2 separate regions of the Homo sapiens genome follow, and region 1 is linked to region 2. The links come from fine-mapping of genetic effects on gene expression. A gene starts in region 2. The other region holds a variant in brackets. All regions are shown on one strand. Distances are from middle to middle.

The links.
Region 1: its variant is fine-mapped to the expression of MMEL1 in esophagus muscle (GTEx, PIP above 0.99).

The regions. Positions count from the first base shown.
Region 1 is chr1:2,598,065-2,606,387 of GRCh38, reverse strand. It overlaps MMEL1 (membrane metalloendopeptidase like 1), which reads left to right. Exons shown (of 24, transcript NM_033467.4): 8 at 22-140; 9 at 765-830; 10 at 2,107-2,241; 11 at 2,415-2,504; 12 at 7,598-7,734; 13 at 8,088-8,181. Among named protein-coding and RNA genes, the nearest start is that of PRXL2B, 15 kb to the right of the region's middle. The variant G/A (reference allele first, on the strand shown) is at 4,035.
Region 2 is chr1:2,629,047-2,637,369 of GRCh38, reverse strand. It overlaps MMEL1 (membrane metalloendopeptidase like 1), which reads left to right and starts at 4,354. Exons shown (of 24, transcript NM_033467.4): 1 at 4,354-4,504; 2 at 7,849-8,039. The coding sequence starts at 7,886. TTC34 (tetratricopeptide repeat domain 34) reads left to right here. Exons shown (of 9, transcript NM_001242672.3): 9 at 1-384. MMEL1-AS1 (MMEL1 antisense RNA 1) reads right to left here. Exons shown (of 3, transcript NR_183343.1): 2 at 4,695-4,868; 3 at 750-1,014. RefSeq lists an enhancer at 6,124-6,624 and a silencer at 7,806-8,100.

The sequences.
Region 1 (8,323 bases), 31 kb after region 2:
TGCGGGGCACTGTCTCCCCAGGACTCGAGTGGGAGCTGGAGCGGCAGCTGGCGCTGATGAACTCACAGTTCAACAGGCGCGTCCTCATCGACCTCTTCATCTGGAACGACGACCAGAACTCCAGCCGGCACATCATCTACGTACGAGCCGCGCCGGTGGGCAGGGGTAGGCAGGGTCCCCAAGCCTGGCTGGGGGCTCTTGCAGCACAGCAGAAGGATGGGCCAGGCCGACAGGGAGCTCCGGGGTCTCCTGGGACCTGGGCTCCTGGCTCCTGTCCACGTCCGTGGGCCCGGGAACGAGCTGCTGCTGCTGGAGTTTCTGTTGGGCCTCCTGGCCAAGCTGGGGGCCACAGTAGAACCCGGTTCTGGTCAGAGGGGCGGGGGCTCCTGAACAGCGGGGCTGGAACCGGGGCAGGAGGCCTGACCTCAGGGATCCACTGCTGGCCACGGGCTGGAGGCCAAAGAGAAACACACGAAACAAATACGCGCCCCACTCTGGGGGAGCCGCGGGTGCTGCGAGGCCCGGGACAGCCTGAACCCCTCCCCACCCCACCCCCGCCACCCTCTCCAGTCCAGCCCAGCGCCCCCACCATCACTCGGGGCAGGGTCTGGCCTCCCGGGTCCGGCACAAGCTCCACCACCAGCTCCTGGGCAGAGCACGTGTGCACGGGGCACAGTCCTGTGGGGAGGCGGCTGCAGCCTGCCTCAGCCAGGCTGCGGGGACCCCGGGCCCCTTGCCCAGGGTCACACCTTCTGTATTTCCAGATAGACCAGCCCACCTTGGGCATGCCCTCCCGAGAGTACTACTTCAACGGCGGCAGCAACCGGAAGGTGGGTGGGTCCTCACCGCAATGCCAGATGACCCCCCCATCACCCCCTACCCCGTGGTCTGGCCTTCCCGTTGCCCACCTGGCCTTCCCTCCCCGAAGCTGGTGTTAGTGAGCACCTGTGGAGGTTGAGCCCGGCACTGAGGGTGGCGGGTGCAGACGTGACCTATTGCTTGCCACCATCCTGGGGGACGTTCCCTCAACACCCGGGCCAGGCCTGGGGACAAGCTCAGCTCAGCAGCAGCCCCATGGGGCAGAACTGTCATCCCCCTCCCGTCAGTACAGACCCAGGCTCTGCAGCACCGGATTCCCAGGAGGGCCCCTGGAGATCTGAGTGCAGGCAGCTGGGCCCCGAGCCTGCTCCATCTCAAGGGGCTGTCAAGAGAGGGGAGGGATGAGGACCCCCACTGTGGACAAGGGGACCTTGAGGCTGGCAGGCCCAGGGCTAGCCCAGGGTGCAGGGAAGGGTGGGGAAGGACAGGGAGCAGGTGAGGAGGGCAAGGCATCCAGCACCAGGGCAGAGGTGAACAGGCATGAGGCATGAATGCCCCAGAGGGCCAGACACAATCCAGGGGGCCTCCTGGTGGAGGTGGGCTATGAACTAGACTTTGAAGGATGACCAAGCCCAGAGGAAGGGCCGTGTGGCCAAAGGTGGAGCAGTGGGGCTGAGAGAACCACGCCAGAGCAGGAGGGACTGGAGTGTCTCAAAAGCGCCATGTCTGGCCATGTGTTCAGACCAGGCAGCTATGGGCCAAGCCTGGCCAGAGCATTGGCCTGCACTGGGGAAGCCCTGCCCAGCGCGAGGAAGGCAGCTCCCTGAGGAGCAAACTTCCTCAGGATCCCACTCCAGACACTCAGGCCGGGAAGCACCTGGGTAGGGAAGCCCAAATTAGCCCTGGCACCCACCACCCCGGCACCCACCACCCTGGCACCCACAGCCCCGGCAGGCCCAAGTTAGCCCTGGCACCCCAAGCCCAGCACCCCAACCCCAGCACTGAGAGCCCCAGCACCCACCTGTGCAAACCCTTATAGGCAGCCACACAGTTTAAGCCCTGAGCAGCCCTGCAGACTAGGTACCCCGTCCAGTGGCTCGGGCACAGGTCACGCGTCTGAGACGCTCCCACTCGGCACTCTGTGTGCCCGAGAGCCTGCTGGTCAAGGTGGGTGGACACGCATTAGGGGCTTCCCCATGTCCTACGCCCACCCCACCCCCACAGAAAACTCCCTGGGGGCCATGGTGGCTGAGGCCACCCAGCTCTGCCCGGCGTCCTTTGGCCCAGGTGCGGGAAGCCTACCTGCAGTTCATGGTGTCAGTGGCCACGTTGCTGCGGGAGGATGCAAACCTGCCCAGGGACAGCTGCCTGGTGCAGGAGGACATGGTGCAGGTGCTGGAGCTGGAGACACAGCTGGCCAAGGTAAGGGGGCCGGGGCGGGTGGGGAGCGGGCAGCGAGTGGGCTGGGAGCCCCAGGCGGTGTGGCTGGCCAAGGTGAGGGGGTGCTGGGTGGGCCGGTAGCAGGCAGGGACTGGGCCAGGAGCCCCAGGGGGCATCCTGGCCACCCGCCCGTGTGACTGCTATCCCCGGCACAGGCCACGGTACCCCAGGAGGAGAGACACGACGTCATCGCCTTGTACCACCGGATGGGACTGGAGGAGCTGCAAAGCCAGTTTGGCCTGAAGGTGAGGCCACACCACACAGGAGGCCGGCACTGGCCGGGTGGAGACTCGTGGGGGACATGGAAGCGGCCCTCTGAGAGGGCACGTTGCCTGGCATTTAAGCTCAGAAACATTCCCCATCCCCGAGCAGGGAGACCCTGTACCTGATCACCCAAACTTGCTGCAGAGCAGCACCAGCACGATTACTAATGTCACTGGGACAGCAGTGCCAACTGTGCCATCCTGGAACAGAGTCACCCATCTGTGCGGTGCTGTGATGGCCCCGGTCTTCTGAGCAGGAAACGGAGGCCTCAGGGGGCTGCTGATGTGTGGGGGTGTACAGGGTCCCACCCAGGGCTCTCAGACCCCAAGTCCCGCTCAGAACCTTAGCAGGGTGCTTCCTCCCAGTCCTGCCTGCCCTGAGGGTAGCAGTTCCCCCTGGCCACACCCTCAGGCGCTCCCCTGCCCAGTGCCCAGGCCAGGCACCGCCCTGTGCTTTGAGGTGGGGGCTGGAGAGGAGCAGCCCAGCCTGGGAAGGGGCAAGTCCCCCACTCCCTCAGCCGACTCTCACCCTGCTGGAGCAGCTGGCCTTCTCGAGGGCCTCCTCCCCCAGGAGGCGCAGGCGTGCAGCTTCGGCAAAGGGTGCCCAAGTCAGTGGGGGGAGGGCAAGGGCAGAAGGGGGTCCAAAGCCCCTGCCCCCTCAACCAGAGTATGTCCCTGAGTGTCTGGAGCCACAGCTCTTGCCAAGGGCAAGACAGAGAGACTCTGGGGAGAGCCTCGCCCCAGGGCACCTAGTGCCTTGGAAGGCTGGTGGTCCCTAGATCGGTTCTGGTCCCCAGGGCTGGCCTGCGGGGACACACCTTCCCCAACACCCCGCTGCCCAGAACACACGCAGTGGGGCCAGGCTCTGCTCTGGCACTGGGCTTTATCCCCTTCCCAAACAAAGGCCTATCTCGATCGAGGTTCCGGTGCGGGAGAGGGACAGAAAAGCGGAGTGACCTCTAAAACGTGTCAGAAAGCCAGAAAGGGGGCAGGATGAGCTCAGCCAGGACAGCAGACAGGAGGTAAAGCCTTGCAGAGAACCAAGGGCCATGGCCATCTGGGGCCAGTGTGGCTCACACAGCAGTTCCCCAAGAGTCTGGGGCAGGGACTCCCAGCTAATGAGCACCGGGGCTAGAGAGAGATGGAGTAGGAAGTAAAGCGGGGGATGCCGTGTCCGACCTCGGGGGCCACTTGAAAGTCTCAGACTCTGCCCGAGAGGAGTGGGGGTATGACAGGACGTGACCTGGTTCACAAGTAAGAGTGAGTGAAGGGGACGGGGCAGGTGGCAGAGAAGCCAATCAGAGGCTGCCACGTAGCCCGGGCAAGAGATGGCAGCTCTGCCAAGGGGGGTGCCCGTGGTGGAGGTGGCTTTGGGGTTGATTTTGGAAGTGGAGCCAACAGGGTTTGCAAAAGGACTAAATATGGAAGTGAGAGAGCTCAGATGGCCTGAGGTTGCCGTGGAGACATCACAGCGGCAGGTTCAGGGGAGCGTCCAGGAGCCCAGGGTTTGGG[G/A]ACATTTGGTTTACAATGCATTTATGATGTTCAGAATCGCCCCAGAGTGAACACATCCACACAATCACCCCTCAGATCAAGACTTACGTGACCACCGACATCCCAGAAGCCCCCACATGCCCCTGCCTAGCCCCTGTGCCTGCCTCCTTCCCTGGAGAAGAGACCCTGACTTCTCCCTGGAGGGAGGCCGGTCCCTGACGTGGCCTCTAGATTGCTGAGTGGCCTCTGACTCTAAGAACATGCGACAACTCGGGTCCCACTGTGCTGTCTCTGGGCCTTTTCTGAGTGATGTTGTCATGCCCATGCCTGTGTGTGCCTGTGGCAGGCAAGTGGGTAGGAGTGGAATTGCTGGGTGGAAGCACACGCATCTGTTCAACAGTAACAGGCACTGTCTTTCCCCAGAATTATCCAGGGATGTGCGCTCCCCAACAGCGGCTGGTGCCACACCCTCGCCCGTGCTGGGTGGTGTCCGTTCTCAGCCGTTTCTGCACCTGTGTAGTGGGGTTTCATCTGGGTTCAATGTGACTTTCCCCAAGGGCGGAGGAGGTTAAACGCCATCTCCTGTCAATTGGCCAATGCCATTCCCTTTTGTGGAACGTCTGTTTGAGTCTTGCCCATTTGTTCTATCGGGCGATCTTTCTCTGATTGATTCTTGGAGTTACCTATTTTAGATGTGACTCCTTGGTCAGCTTATGTGTACAAATGTTCTCCCCACTGGGCAGCTTGCTTTTTTACTCTCATAAGGGTTTCTTTGTTTCAATGGAGGCTATTAAATGGTCCAATTTATTGGCTTAGCAAATGTGTGCAGATCTCTTCTTCGTGGTTAGTATTCTTTGTGTTCTGCTAAAGAACTCTTTGCCTACCCTCAGGTTTGCTTAGGTCTACAATCTACTGTGAGTTGATTTTTTTAATGGACAGTGAGATGTAGGAATTGTTTCTTTCTTATGGATTTCCAGTCATTCAGCACCATTTATTAAAAAGAGCCCCCTGTGAGCCCCTGGTCTTGGTGCCTTCTGTGTTATAAATCAGGTGTTCCTGTGTGTCTATGCGTGGGCCCATATGTATATTTCTGGACTCTCTTTTGCCCCACTGGTCTCTTTATCTATCCAAGTGATAACCCCTACCACCATCACTCCTTCAGCTTTATAATGTCTTGATAGTCAATAGAGTATATATTTCAACTTTGTTCTTCAAGAGTGTCTTGATAATTCTCAGTCCTTTGCATTTTCACATAAAACTTAAAATCTGCCTTCCATTTGCATACACGCACACACACAAAAAGAAAACTCTGCTAGAAATTTGATAGGGATCACTTTGAATCTCTCTATCAATTTGGGGAGACTTTGCAATGCTGAGTCTTCCAATCCATGAACATGATATATGCTTCCATTTATGCTTCAATTTTTCTTAATAACTTTTAAAGCTTTCAGTGTCAAGTTCTTATACATATTTTATTAGATAAATTACAGGTGTTTGGTTTTCTACTATAAATAGAATCATTTTGAAATTATCTTATTTGTTGCTGATATATGGAAATACTGACTTTGTAAATATGCAGTCTTACTCAATGCACTTATTAGTTCTGGTTATTTATTTGTAGAATAAACAAAATCATATCATTTGTAAAAAAACAGGGGGGTTGGGTTTTGTTTGTTTGTTTGTTTGTTTGAGACAGGGTCTCACTCTGTCATGCAGACTGGAGTGGAGTGGCACAGTCATGGCTCACTGCAGCCTTGACCTCTTGGGCTCAAGCCTCCTGAGTAGCTGCGACCACAGGAATACACCATGACCAAGCCTTGCCTGATTTTTTTTTTTTTCCCAGAAACAGGGTTTCTCTATGTTGGCCAGGCTGGTCTTGAACTCCTGTGCTCAAGCAGTCCTCCCGCCCTGGCCTCCCAAAGTGCTGGGATTACAGGCATGAGCCACCGCACCTGGTCCAGTTTTATTTATTCTCTTTCAGTTCTTACTGGCTTTATTTCATGTTTGCTTTTACTGAACTGGACAGGATTTTGAGCATAATGCTGATGTCATAATAGTAGACATTAAAAGAAAAGCACGTATATTCTTACCACTAAATTTTATGTTTGGCCAGGCATGGTGGCTCATGCCTGTAATCCCAGCACTTTGGGAGGCCGAGGCAGGTGGATCACCTGAGGTCAGGAGCTTGAGACCAGCCTGGCCAACATGGTGAAACCCTGTCTCTACTAAAAATACAAAAACTAGCTAGGTGTGTTAGCACATGCCTGTAATCTCAGCTACTAGGGAGGCTGAGGCAGCAGAATTGCTTGAACCCAGGGGTCAGAGGTTGCAGTGACCCAAGATTGCACTGCTGCACTTGAACCTGGGCAACAAAGCGAGACTCTGTCTCAAAAATAAATTTAAAAAAAAGTTATGTTTGCTATGGAGTTGTTTTTGTTGCTTCTGCTGCTTCATACATTTCCTTTATCAGGTTATAGAATTTTCCTTCTATTTTTCTTTTTATCTTTTTTTTTTTTTTGAGACAAAGTCTTGCTCTGTTGCCCAGGCTGGAGCGCAGTGGAGTGATCTCAGCTCACCATAACCTCTGCCTCCCAGGTTCAAGCGATTCTCATGCCTCAGCCTCCCAAGTAGCTGGGACTACAGCATGCGCCACCACACCCAGCTAATTTTTGCATTTTTAGTAGACACAGGGTTTCACCATGTTGGCCAGCATGGCCTTGAACTCCTGGCCTCAGGTGATCTGCCCGCCTCGACCTCCCAAAGTGTTGGGATTACAGGCGTGAGCCACTGTGGCTGACCCCTTCTATTTTTATTTGCCAAGAGTTTTTATTATGAATAGATGGCAGATTTTATCAAATGCTTTTTCTGCATCTGTTGAAATAATCATGTGACTTTCCTCCTTTATTCAGTTATTGTAGTGAATTAAAATTATTTTATTTTCAAATGTTACACCAAACTTGTATTCCTTGAATAAATCTAATTCAGCTGTGATATATTAGCATTTTATACAAGTATGGCTAGGTTCTATTTGCTAATATTTTGCTTAGAACTTTTGTATCTATGACATAAACGAGACTGGCTTATTATTTACTCTGCTTATAATATCCTTATTTTGGTATCAAGGTTATTCTTGGCCTCATAAATCAAGTTGAAAAGCATTTTCTCATCTCTGGAAAGTTTTAATAAGATTGGCAGTTTTCCTTAAATGTCAGATAGAATCCACTGGTGAAGCCAAATGGGTCTGGAAATTTCTTTATTGGAAAGTTTCAAATTAAATATTCCATTTATTTAACCTAGAAGACTATTCATATTTTCTATTTCTTTTTTTGTCATTTTTGCTAAGTTGTGTTTTTCTAGGAACTTGCCTGTTATACTTAGGCTTTCGCATATATCTGCATGATCGCTTGGGTTTTTACAGCTGTAGGCTCTGTAATAATGTCACCCACCCTTTCCTGATTCTGATTACCTGCACTTCTCTCTTATTCCTTGAACATTCTTCAACAGGGGCTGGGTTTCTTAGATTCCCAGGAACTGTTTCTCCCTCTCTCTCTCTCCCTCTTTCTCCCCACTTCCTCTATCTGCAGGGATTTAACTGGACTCTGTTCATACAAACTGTGCTATCCTCTGTCAAAATCAAGCTGCTGCCAGATGAGGAAGTGGTGGTCTATGGCATCCCCTACCTGCAGAACCTTGAAAACATCATCGACACCTACTCAGCCAGGTGAGGCCCAGGGAGGGTCTCCAAAGGCCTCAGCATCTTTGCCCCTGCTCTCCCATCCTCCCCAACACAGCTTCTGCTCCCAGGAGGGGACCCTATGAAGCATCTGCCCTGAGGGGTGTGGGACATGAGGGGTTAAGCTTTAGTGGCCAGTGGAGTCTTACATTAAAAATGTGTCACATCCCAAGCACCCGGGGCAGATGGGCTGGATCTTGGAGGTGGTTGTCCTGGAGGTTTTCTCCAGCACCCATAACTCTCTGGGGTGGAACGTGCTGGCCAAGGGCCCTAAGCCATATCTCCTCCCTTGCAAAGACCTCTCACCTGTTCTCCCCTCACCCTCTACCTTCTGCCCCCAGGACCATACAGAACTACCTGGTCTGGCGCCTGGTGCTGGACCGCATTGGTAGCCTAAGCCAGAGATTCAAGGACACACGAGTGAACTACCGCAAGGTGAGCCCCTTCCCTGCCCAGAGCCTGGCCGGGCACTCATTCATTCAGGCCACGATGCTGAGCATAAGCTGTAGGCAAACACCGAGGTCCACACCAGGGTCACAGCCATGGACGAGGCAGGGCGAGGCGCCCACCCCAGTGG
Region 2 (8,323 bases):
CCCACCTCCGAGCCAAAGACAGTTTAAAGCCTGAAAGCCAAGCTACAAATTAAATCCTCAGCCTGGATTGAGAACCCATCTTCCCATTTGGCTGCTTTCCTCTGATTGATCCCCACCCTTCACCTATTTTACATGTACCTATCTTTTCCTAATTCATTTTCTACACTGGCATGCCCACCTTTGAGTGGTACCTTTGTTTAAGCCTTTTTTGCATAATCAGAAGCCAATCAGCATGCACTCCCCCATTCTGAGCCCATAAATGCCCCGGACCCAGCCACACTAGGAGAGAAACCACCTGACTTCAGGTCGGGAACCACCCGTGCATCCCCTCTCTGCTGAGAGCTGTTCCGTCTCTCAATAAAATTCTTCTCTGCCCTTCTCACACTTCGATTGGCAGCATCTCCTCATTCTTCTTGGACACGGGACAAGAACTTGGGAACTGCCATACATGGGTACAAGCTATAACACAAGCAGGCTGGAACATGCCCAGCCCAGCCACAGGCTGAGCTGGTGAACAGCCAGGTGTGGCCCAGGCAGGCTGAGTGGGTGGGCCACCTCCTGCGGCAGGTAGCATGGCCAAGAGAGGCCTGGGGAGGGGGGGTGTCAGCAGCCAGAGGTACCTGGCTGGCAAAGTGACCAAAGAGGTACCTGACTGTGTCACTTTGAGGGCCTGTCTCTGGGGACCCCCTCCTAGTATGAATTTATGTATCAGTTGGGGTCTACTTGGGAGATGGAAACCACAACAGTGATTCTAATAGCATGAATTTAATGTGCAGAATTTTTCATTAGTTCTGGGTAAAAACAGCTCTAGGGAATCATGGAGGTTGCAACCACAAAATTCAGAGAGGTGACCTGGCTGGCGACACTGGTGATAATGGTCACCTGCCATGCAGCCTTTCAGCTCAGGTGGGCACACTCCTCTGCCCCTGCCCACTTCCTCTCCCAGGTGAATCTTGACCACACCTGTGCCTGGCACTGTGCACACATTCTCTGTTGTTCAACTCTGCGATCAATCTGGAAAAAAAAGAAAAAAAAAAAACCTTTTTAGGAGAGTAAAAGGAAAATAAATCTTGGGGCCCCAAAATCACTAAGCCAAAGGGAAAAGTCAAGCTGGGAACTGCTTAGGGCAAGCCTGCCTCCAATTCCATTCAAAGTCATTCCCCCGCTCGCTGAGATAGATGCATATCTGATTGCCTTCTTTGGAAAGGCTCATCAGAAACTCAAAAGAATGTAACTCTATCTTACATGTGTTGATTGATGTCTCATATCTCCCTAAAATGTATAAAACCAAGCTGTCCTCTGACCACCTTGGGCACATGTCAGGACCTCCTGAGGCTGTGTCACAGGTGTGCATCCTTAATTTTGGCAAAATAAACTTCCCAAATTGGCTGAGACCTGTCTCAGATTTTTGGAATTCACAAGTGAGGAGGCAGAGGCTCCAGCTACTGGGGATGGGCTGGTGGCTCAATGACACAGATTTTGGGGCAGCGGGACCACTGGGCCCCTTCCCTCCTGCCCTGGATACCCAGGGCCTGACTTCAGGAGGCAGCTGACAAGGAAGGTGGGGACCCCAGAGGCCCGGCTGTCGTCCCAGCAGCCGGAAAGAGGCTCACCCAGAAATGCTGGTGAGCCTCTTCTGACCTGTGCATCTTCTCTAAGTGGGGCACCTCATTCCTGCCCAGAGCGTAGCTGGGCAGACCTGAGGGAGAGGCCCTGCTCCCAATGGGCAGAGGAAATGCCCGTTGGGCACGTCTGGGGTGCACCAAAGCACAGGACCTGCCACCAGTAGCCTGGCCTGAGAGTGTGGGGCAGTCACAGGCAGGCGTCTCCAGGGCCTGAGGGCAGCCCCCAAGGCAGGGTGGACACGGCAACCTGGGTGAGGGCAGCCCCACAGCAGTGTGGACAAAGGCTAGTGCCCTCAAGGCCCACCCTGGCCCCAGGGCTGCTGCAGGAAGCACTTCCCTGACCCCCGTCCCACCTGCCTCCTTGGACCCCTGAGCTGGGGCTGCTCCTTGGATCTCCACATCCCACAGCAACCCAGAGAGTAGGAGGGGCAGGGAACACCCATTTTCCCCCAATCTCCCTAGGAGATGGGATTAATGTCCACCTCCGGGGTGCTGGGCTCTGGCTATGCGGGTGTCTGGGGGGACAATCCATGCAGGTATTTGCGGGGGATGGTCTGTGCGGGTGTCTGGGGGGATGGTCTGTGTGGGTGTCTGGGGGGACAGTTTATTCTGTGTAGGTTGTCTGGGGGGACAGTCTGTGTGGGTGTTTGGGGGCATGGTCTATGTGGGTGTTGGGATGGTCTGTGCGGGTGTCTGGGGGGACAGTCTGTGTGGGTGTTTGGGGGCATGGTCTATGTGGGTGTTGGGGGGATGGTCTGTGTGGGTGTTTGGGGGGCCAGTCTGTGTGAGTGTTTGGGGGCATGGTCTATGTGGGTGTTGGGATGGTCTGTGTGGGTGTTTGGGGGGACAGTCTGTGTGGGTGTTTGGGGGCATGGTCTGTGTGGGTGTTGGGGGGATGGTCTGTGTAGGTATCTGGGGGGACAGTTTATTCTGTGTAGGTTGTCTGGGGGGATGGTCTGTGCGGGTGTCTGGGGGGATGGTCTGTGTGGGTGTCTGGGGGGATGGTCTGTGTGGGTGTCTGGGGGGATGGTCTGTGTGGGTGTCTGGGGGGACGGTCTGTGCGGGTGTCTGGGGAGAGAGTCATCTGTGCAGGTGTTTGGGGCGGCTGGGTTGCACTGCCCTGGGCACCTGCAAATCTGTGAGTGTCCAGTGACCGGGGTAGGTCTCGGGGTCTGCAGCCTCCTTGGCCTTTAGCCTCCTTTCCCAGTTTCTCTTGTCTGGCAGGTGCCAGGCTAGGACCCAAGCCTCCTGCTGTCACCTAGAAGTAGGGAGAACCTGGGAATAAGGGGTCCCAAGTTTGGCAGCCCAGGTCACCAGGTGGCCTTGGGCCAGGCTGGGGGCTGCTGGGCTGGACAGGCCTGGGGTTCGGGAAGGAGGAGCATGCACAGGGCCAGCCTTGGGGAGTCGGTTCAGAGTCCAGGGAGCCCCTGCTGAGAGTAGGCCAGGCCCCTGCATCTGTTTCTCCCTCTGTGGATTTGTACCTTAGAGACAAGAACACTGTGACATCCAGAAAGGGCCTGCTGGCACCAGGGCTGTCGGGCAGGTGGGCTCGGAAAGGCTCTGGCCTCTCCCCATAGCAGGAGCCTCCAGCCAGGCTGGACCCTGGCCCACTCCCAGCTCCCCAGAAAGGGCGGTCCCAGCTTCCTGCTTGGCTGGCCTTGACATTGTTTCCATTTGGGCCAGCAACCCAGGCAGCCTGAGGCCAGACTGCAGCTCCTGGGCTGGTTGCTGGGCGTGATGGCAGGGGGCTGCTAGGACAGCCAGCGGGCCCCAGGGAGAGACTTCCCGGGCTCAGGGTGGTGTCTGGGATCTGATCCCAGCCTGGCTGCAGCTCGAAGCCTTTCTCCTCCCAGGGCCTGGCCAACCTAAAGGGCCATAGACAAAGCTTCCAACAGCACTCAGCGTGGGAGACCTGGCCGGGGCGGCCGTGAGGAGCAGTTTGCCGTGGGACCCCTAGCTCTGTGGCCCAGCCCTGCCCAGATGCCCTGACACATGCCCAAGGCCTGGGCAGGAGGACTCGTTCTGGGGATTCTGAAACAGAAGCTAGAAACCTCATCAGGCCTGGAGAATCAGACAGAGACTGCTCTGCCCAGAACCCCCGTCCGCAAGCAGGGCTGGGTGCAGGGCTCACACTCTGATCACTGCGAACCCTTCAGAAGCCACAGAGCCCTTCTGCCAGCTCCCCGGCCAGGGCTGCCCACCCTCTGTAGCTTGAGGTCTGAACCTCATGAGTTTTCTGTGGGCAGAGGGAAGCAGCCAAACCCAGGCTAGTATCTCTGGGTGGGACCCTCCTGGCAGCCAGCGCCCACCCCCTTCAGGACCACCCCTTCCCCTTGCACCTTGGCAAGATCCCCAGAACCCACCATCCTCCTTGGAGATTGAAGAGAAAGAACACCCAGGGTGGGGCCTTTGTAACCCCCCACCGGGTGGTTAGGGGCAGAGCAGAGGGTGTGGAGTAGGACAAGGGCCTGACCTTCCTCCCAGCAGCCCCTGGGGCCCCTTTGGACTGAAAGGTCAGGAGACAGAAGCAAGGAAGGAGGGCGGCTTGGGAGGCGGGGCCAGAGGCCCTGAGAAGGGCACCCATGAGGCAGGGCAGCCCGGGTGCCAAGAAGCTGCCCTCAGCCCCTCCCCCCATGCCACACCCCCAGTGGAACCTCCTGACTGTGAGCAGGAGTCACCGCCTCCAGGGAGCCCATGCCTGCATCACAAAGGAGGCCCAGAAGCCTTCAGGCAGCCTCAACTCAGCCCCAAGCCACTGCTCTCCCATCCCAGTCCCTGGAAATCCACCCACTTGGCCCAGCTCACCCCAACTCCAACCCACTGGGACCCAGTCTCCAGGGGCCTGACTGTGGGCGGCAGCCACTCCTGAGTGAGCAAAGGTGAGTTGTGCTGAAGGAAGGTACCCGGCCTGCTTTCCTGGGCCTTGAAACCCTCTCCAGGCCCTCTCCTGGGCCTTGAAACCCTCTCCAGGCGCTCAGCCCCTTTCTCAGGAGGCTGGGCAGGGCGTCCTGTGTGCAGTCTCGCCTGTGCCAGGGCAGGCAGCCCCCTCTGGCATACGGTTTATCTTACCCAAAGGACCCGCTGTCCCCCATCTGTAGTAACCTGGAGAGGCCACGAGTGTCCCCAGGGAGCCGCAGTGCCTTCGCCTCAGCAGACACTCCACACCTGCCCCGGGTACTTGGCTCAATTTGAAGGTGTTTATTTTGTGTGTGCCGTGGGGCACATGGAGCCGTCTGTGGATACCTGCAGGACAGAATGAATTCAGGACGCAGGAGCAGATTCATTAATTCTGACCAAAGAAAGAAGTTCGTGGAAGCTGAGCTCAGACTTGTCCAAATGATTGATCCATTCATTCATCATTCATTCATTCATTCACCCAACAGATAATGACCGAGGTCTCTGGGGTGGGGGTGCCAGTCTAGGTGAAGCGGCCCCCACAGAGGGTGCCCCTGCCCGTGGAGCTGACGTTCCCAGGGGGCTGCAGAAGTATCGAGGAGATGTGGAGGTGGAGCTGGGAGTCCCTGGAGAGACACAGAGCAGGGGAGGGGCTGGGGCTCCCCGAGTTGAACCCGAGGCCGAGCCAAGGAAGGCCCCACTGGGAAGGGGAGCTTGGCAGGAATCTGGGAGGCCTGCCTGGGTGGGTGGGGAGGGTGGGGGGAGAAACCTGGTGGGCCTGCCTGAGGGTAAGGGGAGGGCATAGTGAGAGGGGAGGAGGGCCAAAGAGGGTCCTGACATCAGGGCAAGGCCCGGCTCTTCCTCCAAGGGTTTGGCTACCAGGGGCCAGGGAGTGACGGCCTCTGATTCTAGTTACAGGCCCCTGGGCCCCTGTGGTGGGGATCAGTGGGTGAGACAGACCCCTCAGGGGGAGGTGATTGGTGGGGCCTGGAACAGGCAGCGAGTGGCAGGAATGAGAAAGGGTCCGACTGAGATGGGCTTGGAGGCTGAGGACTGGCGCGGGGTGTGGACGCAGGCAAGGGAGGCAGATGGCTCCAAAGTCCAGCTTCAGCCAGTGGCGGGATAGGGGTGTCTAGGGGCACAGCAGAGGGCGTCAAAGGAAGCATCTGAGGGTGTGTGGATGCATGAACGCTGCGGTTCACAGAGCCAGGGACTGAGAGAGGTGGCTGAGGGGACAGGAAGGGAGGAGCGAGGGACCTGGAGGAGAGGAGTGAGGTCCAGGTCCCCGTCCCCGCTCCTCACACAGCCAGAGGTCAGGGATCTCTGGAGGAGTCGCTGAAATGAGCTGGCCCAGCCACCTTTGCAGGGTGTTGCCCAGACAGGCTAAGGGACATCTAGGATCTCCCAGGGAGTCAGGGACAGAACTCAGGCAAAGTCCACAGCAGGGGGGCGGTGGGGTACAGGGGGGCGGAAGCACATTTAGCCCAGGTGCTGGCAGTCTCAGCAGCCAGTCCCTGACCCACCCACAGGCAGGACTGGGCCTGGCTTCCTTTCGCTGCTCCCACATTATCCGCCCTGCCTGGTACAGGGCTAAGCTGGGGCTCAGCACAGCAGGTGTGTGATTGCGTGTGACGACTGAAAGTGCTGGAAGGCCAAAGCACCCAGCCGCTTCCCTAGGACCGGGCAACTTCCCAGCAGGGCTCCGAGTGCCAGCGAGGGATGTGCACATCCATGCATGTGCTCACATATGTGCACACACACACAGACATGCACAGCCACACACCAGAGCACACGCACACACGTGCACACCCACACACACAATCATGCACATGCACATGAGCGCACACGCACAGGTGCACAATCACAGTCACACACGTGCACACACGAGCGTACACGCACACACGTGCATATCCACGCACACAATCATGCACATGCACACACAAGAGCACACGCACACAATGCACAGTCACACACATGCACACACGAGAGTACACGCACACAGGTGCATATCCACGCACATAATCATGCACACGCACACACGAGAGGACACACGTGCACACTCAGGCACACACGTGCATATCCACATAATGCACATGCACACATGAGAGCACACGCACACGTGCACAATCACACAGTCACACACGTGCACACACGAGTGTACACGCACACACGTGCATATCCGCACACATAATCATGCACACGCACACACGCGAGCACAGGCACACACGTGCAGTCACACACATGCACACACGAGGACACACACGTGCACACTCACTCACAGTCACACACATGCACACATGAGCGTAGACAGTGCATATCCACGCAATCATGCACACGCACACACGAGAGCACACGCACACACGTGCACACACACACATGCACACACCAGAGCGCACACACACGTTCACGCTCATGCAGTCATGCACATGCACACACCAGAACATGTGCACACGTGTGTGTACACGATCATACATCAGAACATATGCACACACGCACAGTCATACACATGCACACGCCCAACTACATGCACACACTCATTTGCACACATGTGTACACTCAGGTTCACACTCCCACACATACACGCACACTGGAGCACGCAGACTTGGGAGCCTCCTGAGTCCAGTGTCCTGTGCCCCAACCCTTCCTGCCCAGCTCCCTGTCCTGCCTACAGCAGCAGCCTGTGCCCAGCCGTGTGTGTCTTCAAGTGCTGCCCACTGCCCTGCTGGCTCCAGAAGGTGTCCCCTCCATAGTAACAGGGTCAGGGGACGACCAGAGCTGCACACCAGCCAGGTGGCTGCCAGGGTTGAGACTCAAGCCTGCCTGGCCCTGCAGATCCCTTCCTGGCCCACGTAGTCACCGCCTGTGTGGGTACCTACTGTTCTGGTGTCGCCCATCACTGGCTTCTGGGCTTCAACAGGAAAGGTGGGCTGGGAGCCCAGAAGCCCAAGTGGCCTCCCCGACAGCGTCCCTGACCTAGCGCTCAGGCCCACAGCTCCAAGACAACCAGCATGAGCAGCCCAGGGGGGGGGCTCCACTACAGGAGTCCCTTGACAGCACAGGAGCTGAGCCTCCTGGGTCCAGCTTGCGACCCCAAGCTGGGAGCATCCCAGTCCTAGAACCTCCATGCACTCAGAGATTCCGGCCCAGGGGTAGTGTGGAAAGTCCCGGGACCCAGTCACCCAGGGTTGTGAGCTTGGAGAGGGAGACGGGAAGAGTGTTCCAAAGGCACCCAGCGCCCGCTCCCAGCCAGCATCCGGCCCTTCCAGCCTCGGGCCGGGCTCGGGGAGCTCCACGCCCCTCTCCCCTCTCCCCTGCCCTGGGCCTGCAGGTTCCTCCGCGGTGCTCTCCCGTCCAGAGCCCTGCTGATGGGGAAGTCCGAAGGCCCAGTGGGGATGGTGGAGAGCGCCGGCCGTGCAGGGCAGAAGCGCCCGGGGTTCCTGGAGGGGGGGCTGCTGCTGCTGCTGCTGCTGGTGACCGCTGCCCTGGTGGCCTTGGGTGTCCTCTACGCCGACCGCAGAGGTGAGTGCGGGTGCCCCGCCCCCGCCTGTCCCCGTGCCCGCTCTCCGCGCTCGCCCCGCTGCACCTGCTGCAGGGTCCGCCTGCCCCCAGCCCGAGCCCGCCCGTCAGATGGGGCAGGTGGGTCTGCACTGGGCACCCAGGGGCTCCCGGGGCCGAGCTGCGGACTCAGAGGCGGCGGGAGGGGCACTGACCTGCAGGGAGCCCGCGGTCCCTTCCAGAAAGCTCTGCCCCGGCCCCGACTCCCGCGCGCTGCTTCTGCAGCTCCGCACCCGCCCGCCTCCGCC